Linked DNA regions of Homo sapiens: region 1 is linked to region 2. Evidence: fine-mapped expression QTL. A gene starts in region 2. The other region holds a variant in brackets. All regions are shown on one strand. Distances are from middle to middle.

The links. PIP is the estimated chance that this variant, and not a neighbour inherited with it, causes the effect.
Region 1: its variant is fine-mapped to the expression of GSTZ1 in nasal epithelium (TOPMed, PIP 0.90).

What each region holds. Positions count from the first base shown.
Region 1 is chr14:77,256,950-77,264,949 of GRCh38, reverse strand. It overlaps TMEM63C (transmembrane protein 63C), which reads right to left. Exons shown (of 24, transcript NM_020431.4): 24 at 5,455-8,000. It overlaps LOC124903351 (a long non-coding RNA gene), which reads right to left and starts at 5,131. Exons shown (of 2, transcript XR_007064276.1): 1 at 3,808-5,131; 2 at 1,123-1,560. The variant T/C (reference allele first, on the strand shown) is at 4,777.
Region 2 is chr14:77,315,704-77,324,628 of GRCh38, reverse strand. It overlaps GSTZ1 (glutathione S-transferase zeta 1), which reads right to left and starts at 3,593. Exons shown (of 9, transcript NM_145870.3): 1 at 3,446-3,593. The coding sequence starts at 3,460. POMT2 (protein O-mannosyltransferase 2) reads left to right here and starts at 3,746. Exons shown (of 21, transcript NM_013382.7): 1 at 3,746-4,195. The coding sequence starts at 3,948. RefSeq lists enhancers at 2,930-2,979, 2,511-3,372, 3,250-3,519 and silencers at 3,600-3,979, 4,210-4,259.

The DNA.
Region 1 (8,000 bases), 59 kb after region 2:
TCTCTTGTGTTTATGCCATTACACATTTTGGGGTTAGTTAAACCCATACCCGCACTGATCCATGGTCTGAAGCAGGTCATTGGTCGGGGGCTTGGGACCCCACAGGCTGTGGGCTAGAAAGCCAGCCAGGGACGTGGGGAAGAGAAGCTGTGTTGAGTAGGCATGATTGGAGCAGGTTTGGGGTTACCTCCATGTGTTCCAGCCTCGGCGGCGGGCCCGAAGCCCACGCATGGCTGCAAGGCCTGTGCCTGGGCTGGCTGTCCTCGCCCTGGGCTTCCAGTTTCTCAGCCAAGACTGAATGTAGCAGATGCCCACGGGGCCTTGCCAGCTCCCAGATGGGGCCTCATTTTCTTTAAGCTCAGATGCCAGGCCTGCCAGGCTATGTGACTGCAGGCACTGGGTCTGCAGCATGTTAGGAACGCCTTGGCCGCTGTGGTGCCCAGAGCATTTTCTGGAGCCCTACAGGCTGCAGTGAGTGAGGGCCTCATCTGCTGTGTGACCTATTAATGGGTCAGGCTCAGGTGTCCATGTCTGGCCCACAGCTCTCTAGGTGGCCTGGCTTTGGAAAGGTCTAATGCCCTCCTCTGACCTGTGTCTGAGTCATCCTAAGCATGGATGCTTTCACCTTTTTTGAAAGCCACTCTTCTACTTAGGTGTGAGTGCGTGTGTGCATGGGCATGCACTGGTGTGTGTGCACGCGTGTGTATGCATGTGTGTGTGCACGTGTGCGTGTATGCACGCACGTCTGTATCAGGGGAGAGTATCCCTTACCTCCTCCTCTGCTCAAGGGCTCAGCCCTCTCTCCTGCATCCCTCCTCTATCAGCCCACATCTCCCCTCCTATACAAAGAACAACCCCTCACTTCCTTTCCTCTCCAGCTACCCCTTTGGTTCTTTTCTTCCTTTGATAGCAAAACCCTTCGAAAGAGCAGTCTTTCCTTGCTGTTTTCATCTCCTCACTTCTTATGGGAGGATGGGAACCTGCTTCAACCAGGCTTTGCCCCCACTTTCAATCTACTACAGTCAAGGTCACCAACCACCCTCATCTTGCCAGATGTAGAGTCACATCTTAGTCCTTATCTTCCTCTCCTGCTCAGCAGCACTCGAAAAAGTTGGTCATGCCTTTATTTTTACACTTTTTATTATGGAAAAATGTTAACATACACAAGAATCAAGAGATGAGGGAATCTCCATGCACCTCTTCCCCCAACCACACCCCCCTCCCATTTTTGTTTTTGTTTCTTTGTTTTTGCTGGAGAGTTTTAAAGCAAATCCAAGACTTCATGTTCTTTTACCTGTAAATTCTTCCATATGAATTTCTAGCTGGCACTTTATTTCACATATGAAGCCACGCCATCAATACATCTAACAAGATGAACGGTATCTTCTCATCATCACCTAATTCAAATTCCCTGATGGCCCACATTCATCCACGTGTAGATTTCCCAGACGTCTCTCTGCAGTTGGTTTGTTCAACTCAGGATGCACACTTCGCATTTGATTGTGTCTCTTCACTCTTTCACTTTGGCCTGGCCCCTCTTGCCATTTCCCCTCACCATTGCTGTGTGGGAGAAGTGGGTCATTTGTCTAATGGCCTGTTCAGCATTCTCCACTTGGCTGAAGCTGCTTCGTGGCATCTTTTGACTTATTCCTCTATGCACCGCATTTACTGCCAAGCGTGGTTAGAGCTGGGGACACCCTCCTTCCTTTTTGAGTCCCTCCTGGTTTTCCTTGCCGGTTCTCCTCCCATCTCTTTGTGCTGGCTCAGCCCTCAGACCTCCTCACCTGCACCTGCTCCCATCAAAGTCTCAGCCAGTCCCATGCTTTAATCACCACCCAGGTGCTGATGACATCTCCAGCCCGACTCCTGTATCTAGCCACCTTCTTGACATCCCCACATAGCATCTTAACCAGAACACACTCAAGATGGAACTCTTGGGGTTTCCCTTGGCCTTTTTCTTCCCAGCTTTCTCCACCTCAAACCAGAGTGTGCTGAGTTGTTCATGCTGAAGATCTGGGAGTCATCCTTGCGTTCCTGCTTTCCCTCAGACCCCACATCTAATCATCCATGAATCCTCAACCTCTGTTCCAAGTTTAACTGCTTCTTTATTCACTCCCTATCCTGGTGCAAGCTACCATATTCTCTCTCCTGAATGCCTCTGACACAGTCCCAACTGGGCTTTTTTTTTTTTTTTTTTTAGACAGGATCTCACTCTGTTGCCCAGGCTGAAGTGTGGTGGCATGATCATTGCTCACTGCAGCCTTGAAATCCTGGGTTCAAGGAATCCTCCTGCCTCAGTCTCCCGAGTAGTTGGGACTCCAGGTGCATGCCACCATGCCCAGCTAATTTTTAAAATTTTTGTGGAGATAGGGTCTTGCTTTGTTGCCCAGGCTGGTCTCAAGCCCCTGGCCCCAAGTAATCCTCTCACCTCAGCCTCCCAAAATGCTGGGATTACAGGTGTGCACCACCACACCTGGCCCCAGCTGGGCTTTCTGCTTCTACTTGTCCTACCCTGGTGACAGTGACCATTTCAGCACATAAGAGTTACATGGGTGGTGGCCAGGGGCTAAGGGGAGGAGGGAATGAGGAATTATTGATTATGGGTATACAGTCTCAGTTTTGCAAGATAAAGAGTTGTGGAGGATGGCTGGTGGTAATGGTTGCACATTACGAATGTATTTCATGCCACTGAACAGGACAGTTACAAATGGTTAAGATGGTGGCCGGGCGCGGTGGCTCACGCCTATAATCCTAGCACTTTGGGAGGCCAAGGTGGGCGGATTGCTTGAGGTCAGGAGTTCGAGACCAGCCTGGCCAATATGGTGAAACCCCATCTCTACTAAAAAATACAAAAATGATGATGGCATATGCCTGTAATCCCAGCTACTTGGGAGGCTGAAGAAGGAGAATTGCTTGAACCTGGGAGGCGGAGGTTGCACTGCACCCAGATCACGCCATTGCACTCCAGCCTGGGTGACAGAGCAAGACTCTGTCTCAACAACAACAACAAAACAAACAAACAAAAAACCCATAAATGGTTAAGATGGTGAATATGATTATGTGTACTTTACCACCACCACCACAACAAAAAAACCTGGAAAACAAACACATAAGGGGATCATACTCCTACCCAGAATCCTCCCATAGTTTCTCAGATGATGAGTGAAACTTGGAGTCCCAGCGTGGCCTGCACAGCCTGTTGCCCACTCAGACCTCGCCCCACCCTCTCCTCCCCTCGCTCACTCTGCCTGGTTCTTTGGGCTCCGCATGTGTGCCCACAGACCCTTTGCTGGCTCTCATGTCTCACCTCCACAGAGCTTGTGCTGGCCTCTCTAGTGCAAAGCATCCTCTCCCCACCTACAGGCACCCCTTGCCCCTATCCGGCTTTGTCTCTCCCTGACACCCCATTATGTAGGCCTATTTGTTTACTGCACTTGTCACGTTCTGTTGCACGGAAATGGGCAGGCGGTCATGGAAGCCACTGGGCTCTGTGTTTGGAGGGGAGGGAAGAGGGACAGTCTTTGAACCCTTGCTGAAGATGACAAGGTAGCCAGAAGTGCCCCTGACACCTGGTGTGTGGCCCTCGGGCCCACATGGTACTCATACTTATTGCAAAAGAAGATAAAGATGGCAGAAGCGTGCCTGAGCTAGGGAGTTGTCATTTCTAAGCTGGCGATGGTGAGATGCTGAGGCCACCCAGGGCATGCAGTGCCTGAGGTTGGGACTGTTTTCCTTATCCACTCACCCCTCCCTGCACACTGGAATCACCTGGGGGACTTTTGTAAAATACAGGGTACTGGGCCCCACCTGAGAAATTTTGGTTTTTCAGGGATGGGGCCTGGACATTGAGAGTGACTCTCCTTTGCAGCTGGGCTGGAGAACCTTGGGAATTGAGGCTGAGAGCTGCCGGGCTGCCACTTGTCCAGGCCGAGGGACTGTCAGATGTTCTGAAAGCAGCCTCTGTTCAGAAAGCCTGGGAACCTGTCTCCCCATAGACCAGGCTCTCCTCGCCTCTGCAAGGCCTTCCACAGAGCAGACCTAGAAACCTGGAATCTGGCCAGCAAGGAGGTTCCTCAGGACAGAAGTGAGCTGCCTCAGGCTTCCCTGGCGGGGCCCCGTGCAGCCCCAGGCTTGGTTTCTGGGCAGAGGCATGGGGCACTCTCAGGCCCCGCTGCTTCCTCCCTGCGCAGCACTCGGTCACGTGCTCCAATCCTTTCTTGGGCACAGCCCAGTGGAGCCAGCCTCCTGGGGCTCCCTCTTGCCCTGCCCCAGTCCCGTCCCCAGCCCAGGTAAATCCACCTTCAGGCCTCCGGTCCATCCTGGCCTGCTGAGTGGAGAGAGGATTGACCAACACTAACCTCCCTGGAGGACATTCCATCCTTGGGGAGACCGCCCTCCCTCTTCGGCTTGTTTTTCTGTCTCTTTCTCAGTCTCTGCCTGATAAAAGGCCCTCGAAAGGTCTGCTGAACCACAGAGTGTCCCAGGCCTGCCATCTGGGGACCCTGGAGCTGCCGGCCCCTGGGAGGGGACCATGAGAGGCAGCAGCAGGGCGCAGCCCCGTCCCGTCCAGTCAGGGAGTCTTCATGGCTTCTCTCCTGCGAAGCAGCCCTTGTGGATTTTAAGGGCTGACTTGACTTGGAAAATAATTGTTTTGAGGGGGAGAGGGGACAAGTGGACGGGTCTTGATCCCACGCCCAGGCCCACACCTTGGTAGACTTTGAGTCAGTGGCCACTGATGGACCGTAGAAGTTTGCGGAGAGGACCCAGCGAGGATGA[T/C]GCAGGAAAGAGTCCTTAGGCAGCCACCCTGAGACTGTCATCCTCTGTCCCCATAGGGAGCACTGCGGGAGGAAGTCTCCCCCTACTCAACACACCCACAAGATTCCCATCTTCTGCCCTCAAATCTGCTCTGCTCAGTCACGAAGCAGAACAGTCCGCTTCATGTCCTCCCAGCCCTACTGTCTGGATGAGGTGACCAGCCTGGGTCATGCAGCTGCTGGAGGAAGGGACAGAACCAGTCTCCTGACCCTGAGATGTGTCCGCCAGGGCAGGGAACTGTTGTCTCCTTGCCACAGTTATAACAGCCTTTGCTAACGGGTGTTTCTTATCCCACCTGGCTGCCCCACACACTTCCCTCGTGCCAACCTCTCCTCCACCCAACCTCTCCTCCACCTCCCCCATCCCCCAAGTCCCCCACCCTCATCCTCTTGCAGACCTGAGCCCTGTCTGCCGCTCTTCCTGGGGCCTCACCTGAAATCTGTGTGTTTTGAAGTCTGGCCACTAGCCTAGCCCAGTGGCCTGCTCATGGGGCTCAGCACTCACCAGAGACTTCTGCTGCTCCTCGGGGCTGCCCTGCTGGCTTCCTGGGTAGCTCAAGGACCAGAAAGTTCTCTCCACTGCACAGCGGAGCAAGGCCAGGCTGGCCCAGATGCACAGGCAGAGAGGCAGGGGCCAGGAGAGGTTGGGAGGACTTGTTTATTCAAGGCACGGTCATAGCATTAACAAGAAGGTTCAGCATTCTGGCACATTCCTTTTGTGGTGGTGGCCAAGGTTAGCCCACACCCCCTCCCCCCCGACCGGGGGCCCCAGAGGACGCAACGCTGCTGATAGGCACTTTGCTTCCAGGGGCAGTGGAGGGTCAGGCAGGTGGGCATGGGGCCACTGGAGGCCTGAGGAGGGCCCCTCCTGGAGGCTCTAGGCAATACCGGTTCCTGGGCGGCAGCTCCTTCCAGAAAGGATTAAGTCAGGAGGTGATTTGGTGGATGGAGTGGGGTGGGGCGGCTGGGAAGTGGCTGGCAGAGGAGTGGGATGGCAGTAGGTGGGGGGAGGGGGGCAATGGGTGAGGCAGGTGTGGGCTGAGGCAGGAGGTGCCTGAGAGGGCCTGGATGTGGTGGCGGGGGGAGGCTAAAAGATGCCCCCTGCTCCACCATCCTGTAGTGACCATGGGAGGTCCAGATGGAGCCAACTGCCATGAGGCTTTGCTGGTTCCCCTAAGAGTGGACTATGGAACCTTCTCCACATGCTCACCACCTTCTCTCAGAGCCAGGCTACACTGGACCCAGGTTCAGAGGGAGAAGCCCCCAGTCATCCCGCCACATTGTCTGCCAGGACTTTTCCCATATGTGGCTTCCACAGTCCGGCAGGGGCTGCAGGGGCTGGGGGCAGGGGCCAGGGAGCTGTGTCCAGCAAAGAAGAGACCCCAGGCCAGCTTCTGGTGTGACCCCCCACACCCCATACACCAAATACACATGATGGGGTCGGGCAGGGCCTGGAGCTGGCCACCTCCCCATCATGTGCCAAGCTCCTGCTGGGCCTGACCGCTATGCTGTAACAGCGTACTTTCCCCTTGTTGGTTGGTGAAATTCCAGTGGGGAGGGGGCCTGTGGGACCTGGGTGTGTAGGGGCCAGGCTAGGACCATTTCCCCTTTATTCCTAGCTGGACAAGGAATGGGAAAGACAGCCTCTCTCCAGCCAACCCAAGCTCTCTGGAAAGACACCCTCATGCCAAAATGTGGGCCATGCCCTGGGGGTATAGCAGTTTCTGCCCATTGAGCACAATTTCTCACCTGCGGTGAAGCTTGGAGCTTCTGGGGCTAGGATGGGGCAAAGGTGGGGCAGGGACAAGGTCTAGGTGATCTGAGTTCAGGGCAGCCATGTGCCTGGGGCCTGGTGCAGGTGCTCAGGTGAGGTGAGCCGGGGGCCGGCCTTCAGTAGGTTGGTGGCAGGGACCCAGACCTTTGGGGGAGGGGGCTGAAGAGGGCCCTGGAGCACACAGACCCCATTCAGCTTGGCTTGTTCTGGTTCATTGAGGCCCCCACTGGCCCTTCTCATGTCCTCCCTGGCTGGGCTGCACGGTGGTCCTGATGAGAGCCCATCCCAGAGGCAGAAGCCGGTTCCCCCCGGCTGTGGCAAAGGTGCTGAGTGTCACCATCACTGTTCGGAATTCAGCTCCCCCAGGTCTCTGGTAGTGGCAGCCCTGGGAGGACAGCCTTGCTTCTCCAGAAAGGGCTTCTCCCTGGAGCACGTGGCCTTCCCCTCCACCACACCCCTGGCAGGCCTGGGGCGACATCACGGTTGAAGCATCTGCAATGTCTGGACCAGGCCCACACTGGAGGCCGCTTGGGTGGTCTTCAAGGCAGGGTGCAGGGGCAGCCCCGAGAAGGGAGGAAGGGTCCTACTTGGGACGCAGGTGATGGTCAGTCCTTAAGTTTGAAGCATGGGGTTCTTACCCTAACGTACTGCCCATCTTGGCCAAGCTGGGGGCCCAGGCACTCAGTTGGGTAGGAGGCAGGAGACGCTTTTAAGTGGCCACATCTTTGGCTTCGGGGGTCTTCTCTTTAGGCCCTGGGGCTTGGGGAGGTATAGCTGGTTTCCCACCACACAGAGTTTTGGGGAGAAGACCCCCCTTCCATGAATTCGGCTTCTGTCGTCTCACCCCACTTTGTGTTACCCAGCAAGGACTAACCAAGGTTTCCTTCTGAAAAATGCACACGAGTCTCATTTGATGAGCCCTGAGTGATCACGCTCTAGCTACCCTTGTAAGAATAGAAAGAAGGGCCTCTGCCCTGCTGCTCCTGGGGACATCTGATGAGGGCAGAGGAGCAGGAAGGGGCTGAGTTACCTCTTCTCAGGTCTACGCTTTCAGTTGGCTCTTGCTCTGGTGGGTGCAGAAACTTTCTCTTTACAGATCCCCATGCAGGGAACCCTGTGATGAGGTGGTCCTCCGTGTCCTGTCAATGTGCCCCGTGCACATACCTTTGCCTCCTCAGACTGCAGGGGAGGAATGGGCCGGGGCTGGGAGGAGGAGCAGCAGCAGAAGCTCCTTGGAAGGGCAGCTGATGCAGAGTGGTGATGACCCCACAGAGCCTTCGGCAGCCTCCTTCTGTCTCCTCCCTTAGGAACACCTTCTCCATCTTGGTCCCAGGAAGGGACCCCAGCGTTCAGTCTCTGTGCCGGGGCTCCAGCCACCTCTCTCAAGACATGTGCTTGCCTGTATCCTCCCA
Region 2 (8,925 bases):
CCATACCTTGCCAGACTCTGTCATGGTATCGTGGTGACCCTCAGCCTCCCAGGAAATGTCCCCTCTGGCACAGCTTCTGAGCAGGGAAAGGAAACCTAAAGGGGTGGATTTCAGGAGCCAATGGGGAAGCTGGGCTACCCAGGCATTGGGGGAACTTTGACTCTGGTCAGAAAGGGCATTTCTGGCCAGGCACAGTGGCTCACGCCTGTAATCCCAGCACTTCGGGAGCCAAGGTGGGTGGATCATTTGAGGTGAGGAGTTTGAGACCAGCCTGGCCAACATGGTGAAACCCTGTCTCTACTGAAAATACAAAAAAAAATCAGCCAGGTGTGGTAGTGGGTGCCTGTAATCTCAGCTACTCAGGAGGTTGAGGTAAGAGAATAGCTTGAACCTGAGAGGTGGAGGTCACAGTGGGCCGAGATCGCACCACTGCACTCCAGAGCGAGACTGCGTCTCAAAAAAAAAAAAAAAAAAAAGGCATTTTTTTCCAACTCGCAGGAAGTTTCTTACGCTCCTGCTGGGGCCAGGTTTGGTGTCCCCCCAACAGAGCGTGGCCTGGTTTTGATGCAGTATTTTGAGTGGTGGAGCGGGCTGGGAGCTGGCATCTGGAGTCTGGACCTGGTGCAGGAACCAGCTCTGCATGACCTTGGACAAACCTCTGCCTTTTTAAATCTTCGGCTCCCTCATTTGTAAAACAAAGGTTGCCCTAAAATGATGGCAGGGCATCCTCTAGCAATGCAGCAAGACAAGGAATTCTAATTTTTTGACGCTTTGGTACATATCTCCTTCAACCCCACCTCCCAGCAGTCCTCCGGGCTCTCGGCTGTCCCCATAAAAACAGCTGGCAGATATGCTCACTCACCCCAAAGGTGAGGTCAAAAGCTGGCAGCTCACTGGGGCCCTATCTGGCCCTCAGAATTTCTGTTTGCTCAACACAGTAGTTTAAAATGTTTCAAGTAGTTGCCAATGTTTAAAAATCAGGACATTTCATTCTAGTATGGTGGGTCATGCCTGTAATCCCAGCACTTTGGGAGGCTGAGGCCAGCAGATCACCTGAGGTCAGGAGTTCGAGACCAGCCTGGCCAACATGGCGAAACAACATGGCTAAACAAAAATTAGCCAGGTGTGGTGGTGTGCATCTGTAATCACACCTACTTGGGAGGCTGAGGTATGAGAATTGCTTGAACCCAGGAGGCGGAGGATACAGTGAGCCAAGATCGTGTCACTGCCCTCCAGCCTGGGGGACAGAGCAAGACTCCATCTCAAAATAAATAAATAATAAAATAAAATAAAAATAAAAATCATGATATTTTATATACAACACCTGTTTGTTTTTTTTCTTTAAAAAAATCTGGAGACAGATTTGGGTTCCTAAATAGCAGCAATTGATGGGAACAGACTAATGGCCCCCATCAACCAGCGTATGCGCTCTCAGGTCTGCCATGGCCCATATCTGGCCCACTTTTCTCATTTTTGTTACCTTTGGGCCCTTGGGGGCAGCTGGGTGTGCGATCTCTACTCCAAGGTTTAAGGGGCTCAAAGTTAATTTCTCTGGTACTTCTTCGGGAGCCAGCATTTCAAAGTGGAACCCAGGAAAGACTCGCCAGTGATTAGCACTCATGAATCTTCCCACCAAAACATGTGTATCCCTATGGATAGGGGAGAACTTGAAAGAACTTCTCAGATGCCCTGTTTACTACCCCTCTGACTATAGACATTTCACCAAAGCTCCCTCTCCCCTCTGCCACCCCTAGCATATTAAGCTGCTCTCTGAACTTGCTATTGCCATCCCTGTACTACCAACTCAGTCTGCTAGATGGCAAGGGTGTAAGTGGGAACCTAGGCCCTTCCAAGATGGTTCCCAAGCCCAGCAGTCCCAGCCTGTCCTGAAGGTACCTTTTGTGGAGAAAGTAAAGATGGTCCTGGCACAGAAAGCAGGTGATGGGCAGAAAGTGTCTTTCGAAGAGGAGGAATTGGGTGGCCACAACTGGATCTTCCTTATTTGGAGATGCAACTCCCTTTCCTTACCTAGCCAGGCTACAGGGACTCCTGGTGCCAAGGGACAGGGACTGCTGGTGACCACTAGAGTGTGGCAGACATTAATTAGCTTAGAATCCCTGAAGAAATGCCTTACCTAATGGCTAAATGCCTTTGGATTACACCTTTGGATCTGTACTACGAGTGACCAGAAGCATGGTAAATGCTGCTGCCCTCCGTCACGACCCACAAGCAGGAAACCTGAAATCTCTTAGGCAATTTCTGCCTTCTCTTACCAGTGATAACTATGTAAACCATGCCCCGTTCCTTTCTGCACTTGTAGAACTAAACTTTAAGCCCAAGTATCCATCTCATCAGCACTCCTAGAAGACCTGTGTTTCCAATTCAAATATGCATTCTGATTACTTTAGCAGATTTTATTTTTAAACCATGTCTTACACATGATTTGAGAAAAAGACTCCTAAAATCCCATTTGGAAGAGGGAGGACTATACATTATTAACGTGACGCAAAGTCCCATCTAACGTGCCACCTTCCTTAGTGCCACAAAAGTGGTTCTCAAACTTCATGGCACGTTAAGAACCATCTAGACCGCTTATAAAAACATGCAGATTCTCGAGCCCGTTCCACCAGAGATGAACAGAGTGGCTCTGGAGCAGGCCCCGGGAAGAACATGTGAAAGCCGTGAAGCTCCCCAGGTGATTGTCATGACTGCCTCTCCTCGCTCGGGGCCTTTTTTTTTTTTTTTTGAGCCGGAGTCCCGCTCTTTCGCCCAGGCTGGAGTGCAGTGGCGCGATCTCGGCTCACTGCAAGCTCCGCCTCCTGGGTTCACGCTATTCTCCTGCCTCAGCCTCCCGAGTAGCTGGGACTACAGGCGCCCGCTACCACGCCTGGCTAATTTTTTTGTATTTTAATAGAGACAGGGTTTCATCGTGTTAGCCAGGATGGTCTCTATCTCCTGACCTTGTGATCCGCCCGCCTCGGCCTCCCAAAGTGCTGGGATTACAGGCGTGAGCCACCGCGCCCGGCCCGGGGACTCTTAAAATACAAACATTACTGGAAGGTCACCTCCTGCTAGGGCCAAGAGAAGAGCATGAAGGGCTGCGAGAAATTGGGAGGCTTGGGGCGACGTTTGGAAGCCTTAGTGGAGGGAGGGGTCTGTTATGGGGAGCAGGGAGGGCGGAGCAGAAGTGAAGCGCGACCGGACAGCGACTCCACCCTGCTACGCACTCCCTACCAGGACCGCCTCCTCTGGCCCAACCCTCCCGGAACTTCGAGCCCCAGCGGGCAGCGCGCAGCACGCAGGCGCAGAGCGTGCCCGGCGCAAAGCACTGCATGCCGGGAGTCGTTGTCGGCCTGGGCGGGCGGTGCAGCTCACTTCTGACCCCGCCCCCCAGGGTCTCCAGGTGTCTAACCAGCTTCCCTCCACCCGGGTGCGCGTCACAGACCTTCCCCGCCTGCATCTGGCACTTCGCGCGACCCCCTCCTCCAGGCCGAGAAACTTCGCGCCTGGGACCTGCCGACGACTAAGGCTCAGTGAGACTCGACGAATCAGGCCCGTGTCTTTCGTCCGGGTAAAGCGAGGGGCTGGACTAGAAAGATCCTTCCGGTCGCCTCTGGCTCGCCCAGCTCTCCCGCCACGCCCCGTACCTGGGGGCTGCTGGGAGTTGCAGTTCCCTGAGCCCGACCCCTCCTGCCCAGTCCCCCCCGCCCCGGGCCGGCCGGCCCTCCCGGTCCCGACATGCTCTGCGCCTCCTGCCGCCTCCTAGCGGCCCGGGCCGCGACCACGCTGCCCGCCCCGCCCCGAGCCCGGGGCCCCGCGCTCCGCTGCAGTGAAGGGCGTTGCATTTCCCGGGGTACCCCGAGCTGCCCTCTTGTGACTCCTTGGCGGGGCGGCTGGTCAGACAAAGTGTGCCTCCGGGCCGGAGGGCGACCCAGAGGAGGGGGAAGATGCCGCCGGCCACGGGCGGAGGCCTGGCAGAGTCCGAGCTGCGTCCCCGGAGGGGCCGCTGTGGCCCCCAGGCTGCTAGGGCCGCAGGCCGGGACGTGGCCGCTGAGGCTGTGGCGCGAAGCCCCAAACGGCCTGCTTGGGGCTCACGGCGCTTCGAGGCGGTCGGCTGGTGGGCCCTGCTGGCCTTGGTGACGCTGCTGTCCTTCGCCACCCGCTTCCACCGCTTGGACGAGCCGCCGCACATCTGGTGAGTGATGGGAGGGACTCGGCGGGCACCATGGCAACCGCGACGGGACGCCGCCCTCTGATTGGCCCGAGGGTACGGAGGGGGCGGGATCTATAGGAGGAGGGCCACGGTGGAGGGGAACTTGAGGTATCGGGTGGGTTGGCCTCTGGCGAGGTGCATTCTCTGGGAGGGGGATCGTTTTGCTCTGGTGGTGGGGCAGTGGGATTCTTAGTATCTGAGGAAGCAGCCCTCATGTCTTCCAGGTTATGCTACAGTGCATCACCTGGCTTGCAAATTGTGGCTTTTAAAGGTGCTTTCAACTTTCCAAAGAGAATTGCAAATTTTTGGGTACAGAATTTTCTAAGGCCTGAGTTCCTATGTCTGCAGGATTTTCAGGCATCAACAGAGGAGAAAATACCTAACTGTGTACCTTTATCCTATAGGGCAAGGACAGTTTGGGTGTTCAGGTATGGTGACCAAAGGATTTTATGAGGCAGAACTCTTCTTGTGAGAAGAGATTTATTTTCTTAAAGGTTTTAGCTTGTACTATCCAGATACTGGGTGTCAGAAATGGAATTCTTTAAGCAAAAAGCAGGCAAGAAAACAGACTGTCAGGGTTGCTTTATTTAGAAATTAATAAATTAGCTTGTTATTGTGTCGTGACTGCTGGCAGAAGATGAGACTCCTGGGTTAGAGACAAAGGACTTTATTACAGGAAATAGGATGCATGTTAGAAGCAGTTTCCCTTGCCATCCAAGTCCCACAGGGTGACGCTATGGGTTTAAATGGATGACTGCACAGGCAGTGGGTTGCATCCAAGTGAAGGAACGACAAGCTTGGAAAATCTGCTGTTTTATAGAAGGCAGTACGCAGACCTCCTCTTTGTCCTGGAGGGAGACACTGCCTCTTCTCTCAAAGTTGCTTGCTGCAAACACAACCATGAGAAATGGCCCAGGTGAGATGCAGTCAGGGCCTTGCATTCTTGGTATACCCAGAATGATGTGTAGAGGCACGAGCAATCTGACAGCCTCTCTCACTCCTCGATTCTATGGTCTTGGCTTCTAGCAGATTTTCACATGAATATACAACTCCCCTGGCTACTCACATCTTTTCAGTTTGTCCCTTACAGCATTTAATTAAGGTTGTTGTCAATGGGACTCTAAGCAGCAGAATAAGGCCAGCTTACAGTATTTACCTCAACCATGCCCTCCAGGGTCCTGGATTCAGCCACTTGTGAATAAGTCCTGGGGGCACCGAGGAATCTTATTTCAGACATCTGGGCTGCAGTCTAAGACCAGTCTATTAACCACTGTGACCTGTGCACAGGGGTTCAGATTGATCTCTGATCTTTGGTGTCATTACCAGTAATTACAATAGCCCACTACCCTTGTAAAAATTTTTTTAAGAAAGTAATTACCAGGCTGGGCGCAGTGGCTCACACCTGTAATCCCGGCAGTTTGGGAGGCCGAGGCGGGCAGATCACCTGAGGTCAGGAGTTCGAGACCAACCTGGCCAACATGGTGAAACTCCGTCTCAACTGAAAATACAAGACTTAGCCGGGCATGATGGCGGGTGCCTGTAATCCCAGCTACTCGGGAGGCTGAGGTGGGAGAATCACTTGAACCTGGGAAGCAGAGGTTGCAGTGAGCTAAGATCGCACCATTGCATTCCAGCCTAGGCGACAAAGCCAGACTCTGTCTCAAAAAAAAAAAAAAAAAATTAACTACCATGATTAATGGAAAGATATTTTGTGACCCATTCTTCCTTACACTAACATATTACTTGGAGGAGTGCAGGCCACTCCAGGATTTTTGTTAGATTTTTATTTGGATCACCATCAAATTTGATTACCATTACAGTGGTTTAAACCACATGGGCAGTGTCACTGAACAGTTGCAGCCTCAATCACTAGACAAGGCATAACCTAAGTAAGGCCCTTAGGATCTCAGGAGAAGCATGTGATTTGTATCAGCCGCATTGATAGAAGGTGGTGCTGATCTGTGTGTTTGCACACCTATGAGGGAGGTCTGCGTTTGGGAGTTGGTGTTGATGTCATCAGGCACGTGGGAATAGTTCAAGACTGGCCGTGTCCATGTGAGTTTTTGTTTTCTTTTTTTATTTTCTTTTTTATACTGACCTGCTAGATAAAGTTTTTATGTTTTCATAGTGAGATGACAAACTCAGCCACAGGTCAGATTGCCAGCCACAGTTGCTGCTTGACCTAGATGGACCATGTGAATGTTTGCCAGGCTTTGGTGCTGGATAGGGACAAAGAGAACATTGTTTCCCTTCTCTTTACATCTCCAGGGTCCTGTGGTGTTCCTTCCCCAGATGCCAGGATTGTTTCTTTCCTTCCATTGCTACATAATGAGTGTGTCCTACCCTAGTAACTATAACTTCACCTTTTCTCCATTTATCCCCTACCAATACGCAGGCCTTCTAATATCCAATTGTTAGAAAATTGACAGAGGCCCATTATGTCTTCTACCTTGACACATGTGGGCCACTGTAGGGGGACTTTAAAAGCACTATACCCAACCAAATGATCATTAACTTTATGTTCTGGCACCAGGCCATTCCAACAAGACAATCTAGTGACTGAACTAGAATTAAGTCTGAATTACATAGATAGCCTCCTCCTCCCAGCTGATCTGGGCTTTCTGTAAGGGGGAAGAAAGATGAATCATGGCCAGAAATGGTCAGGGGAGAATCTCACATTTTCAAAATAGGTTTATATAACCCTCCACCCCTTTTTCCTGATCATTACCCAGTTGGTAGGCAAAAGGAGATGACCCATTTCTGAGAATGGCTGCCTTAGGTGACCAAACTGCTTCAGTAAGGTTTGCAGACCAGGAGGAGGTTAAAAACATAGAATCAAAAATCTTTTTGAGTTGATCTTTGAGGGAACTGTTCAGTACTTGACAATGTCATGCCTGTGGATGGTAGGGAGTGTGGGAGGTCCATCGAATACCTTGGCTATTGACTGTTGACACTGTTGGGTGGCCATTGCGACAAAAAGATATGCCAGTGTCAGACTGTAGATGGTTTGGAAAGCAGAAAACCTGGCAGTTTAGTTTCAAGGGCCACAGTGGTATACACAGAGTCAGATAATTGGACTGGAAAAGCAACATCAGCACTGTAAACTGAAAAAGTATCAGCAGTAGCAAGGTACTGATGAGAGCCTAGAGAAGGGAACAAAGTCCTAATGTCAATCTCCCAGGAGCAGGTGTGGTCAGTGCCCCTTGCAATGTGGCTTCCTTTACTGCAAGACAAGCAGGCCAACTTTTGGCAGGAGTCACAAGTCTGGCACGCAGTGGTGGCTTCTGCCTCAGAAACATGTAGTCCCTTACGTTGTGCCTAGCCCATGATGGTAGATGTTTCCACACCGGTTGCATGAATCCAGGTGGCTATGGCAGCAGTCTTGGTGGTGCAGGCTGGATCAGCAGTTTGATTCCAGTCAGTCTTACGAGAGTACCTGCCCTTAGTGTGGGCACCTACGTGAGTGATCCAGTCTGTCCTATTGGCAGGCAGCCATGATGTGTTTCCACACTTCTCAGCTTTCATCTCTCAGTATTTAGTCTTCCAAGTGGCATACCAAATGCTTCAATCCTTACTGCCATCAGCCATCCAGAGTTATCATTGGGGCTAAGTGCCTGCTGCTGCTTGGTGGGCAACATCAGCTTTTAACTCAGCCTAATCATTGGTGAGCCAGGCCTAAGCATTTACAGGAACCCCTGTGAATCAAGGGCCCTACTGAACAGCAGCTCGGCTTCAGGTAGCAGAGAAGGTTGTTTCTCCCAGAGTGGGAGCTGCCACTTCTTCACGTAAAACCAAGATGCCTCTAGGGCCAGGCTAGCTATACTCTTTTTTTTTTTTTTTTTTTTTTTTAGAGATGAGATCTGACTCTGTTGCCCAGTCTGGAGTGGAGTGGTACAATCATAGCTCACTGCATCCTCAAACTCCTGGGCTCCTCCTGTCTCAGCCTCCTGAGTAGCTGGCACTACAGGCACGTGCCACCATGTCCAGCTAATTAAAACAGATTTTTTAAGAGCTGAGTTCTCACTATCCTGCCAAGGCTGGTCTTGAACTCCTGACCTCAAGCCATCCTCCTGCCTCAGCCTCCTGAATAGCTGGGATTACCAGCTGTACTCTTGAATGTACTATTTCCATAGGATCAGTGAGGCTTGTTAAACCCTTCCCTTGTTATCAGTAGATTCCCATTGACCCACCCCAAAGTGGGAATACTAGGCCAGGGAGTCCTGAGGCCTTTATGGGTCTGGCAATCAATTTCAAAGTGTTGAGTAGTTAACTAAGGAGTTAATAGCTGTCCTTTTAAAAAGGGTGTGCTTGGTACCTATGTCCAGCAGGTGGCACTGTGATTCTGGTGCATGGCTCTCAGTACTCCAGCAGCCACAAAGTTGTTTTTTGTTTGTTTGTTTTTGTTTTTTGAGATTCTCGCTCTGTCGCCCAGGCTGGAGTGCAGTGGCGCAATTTCAGCTCACTGCAACCTCTGCCTCCTGGCTTCAAGCAATTCTCTGCCTTAGCCTCCCGAGTAGCTGGGATTACAGGCGCCCCTATCACGCCTGGCTACCTTTTTGTATTTTTAGTAGAGACAGGGTTTCACCATGTTGGCCAGGCTGGTCTCAAACTCCTGACCTCAGGTGATCCGCCCGCCTCGGCCTCCCAAAGGGTTGGGATTACAGGCATGAGCCACTGCACCCAGCCGCCACGAAGTTTTTAAGCCTGTGATT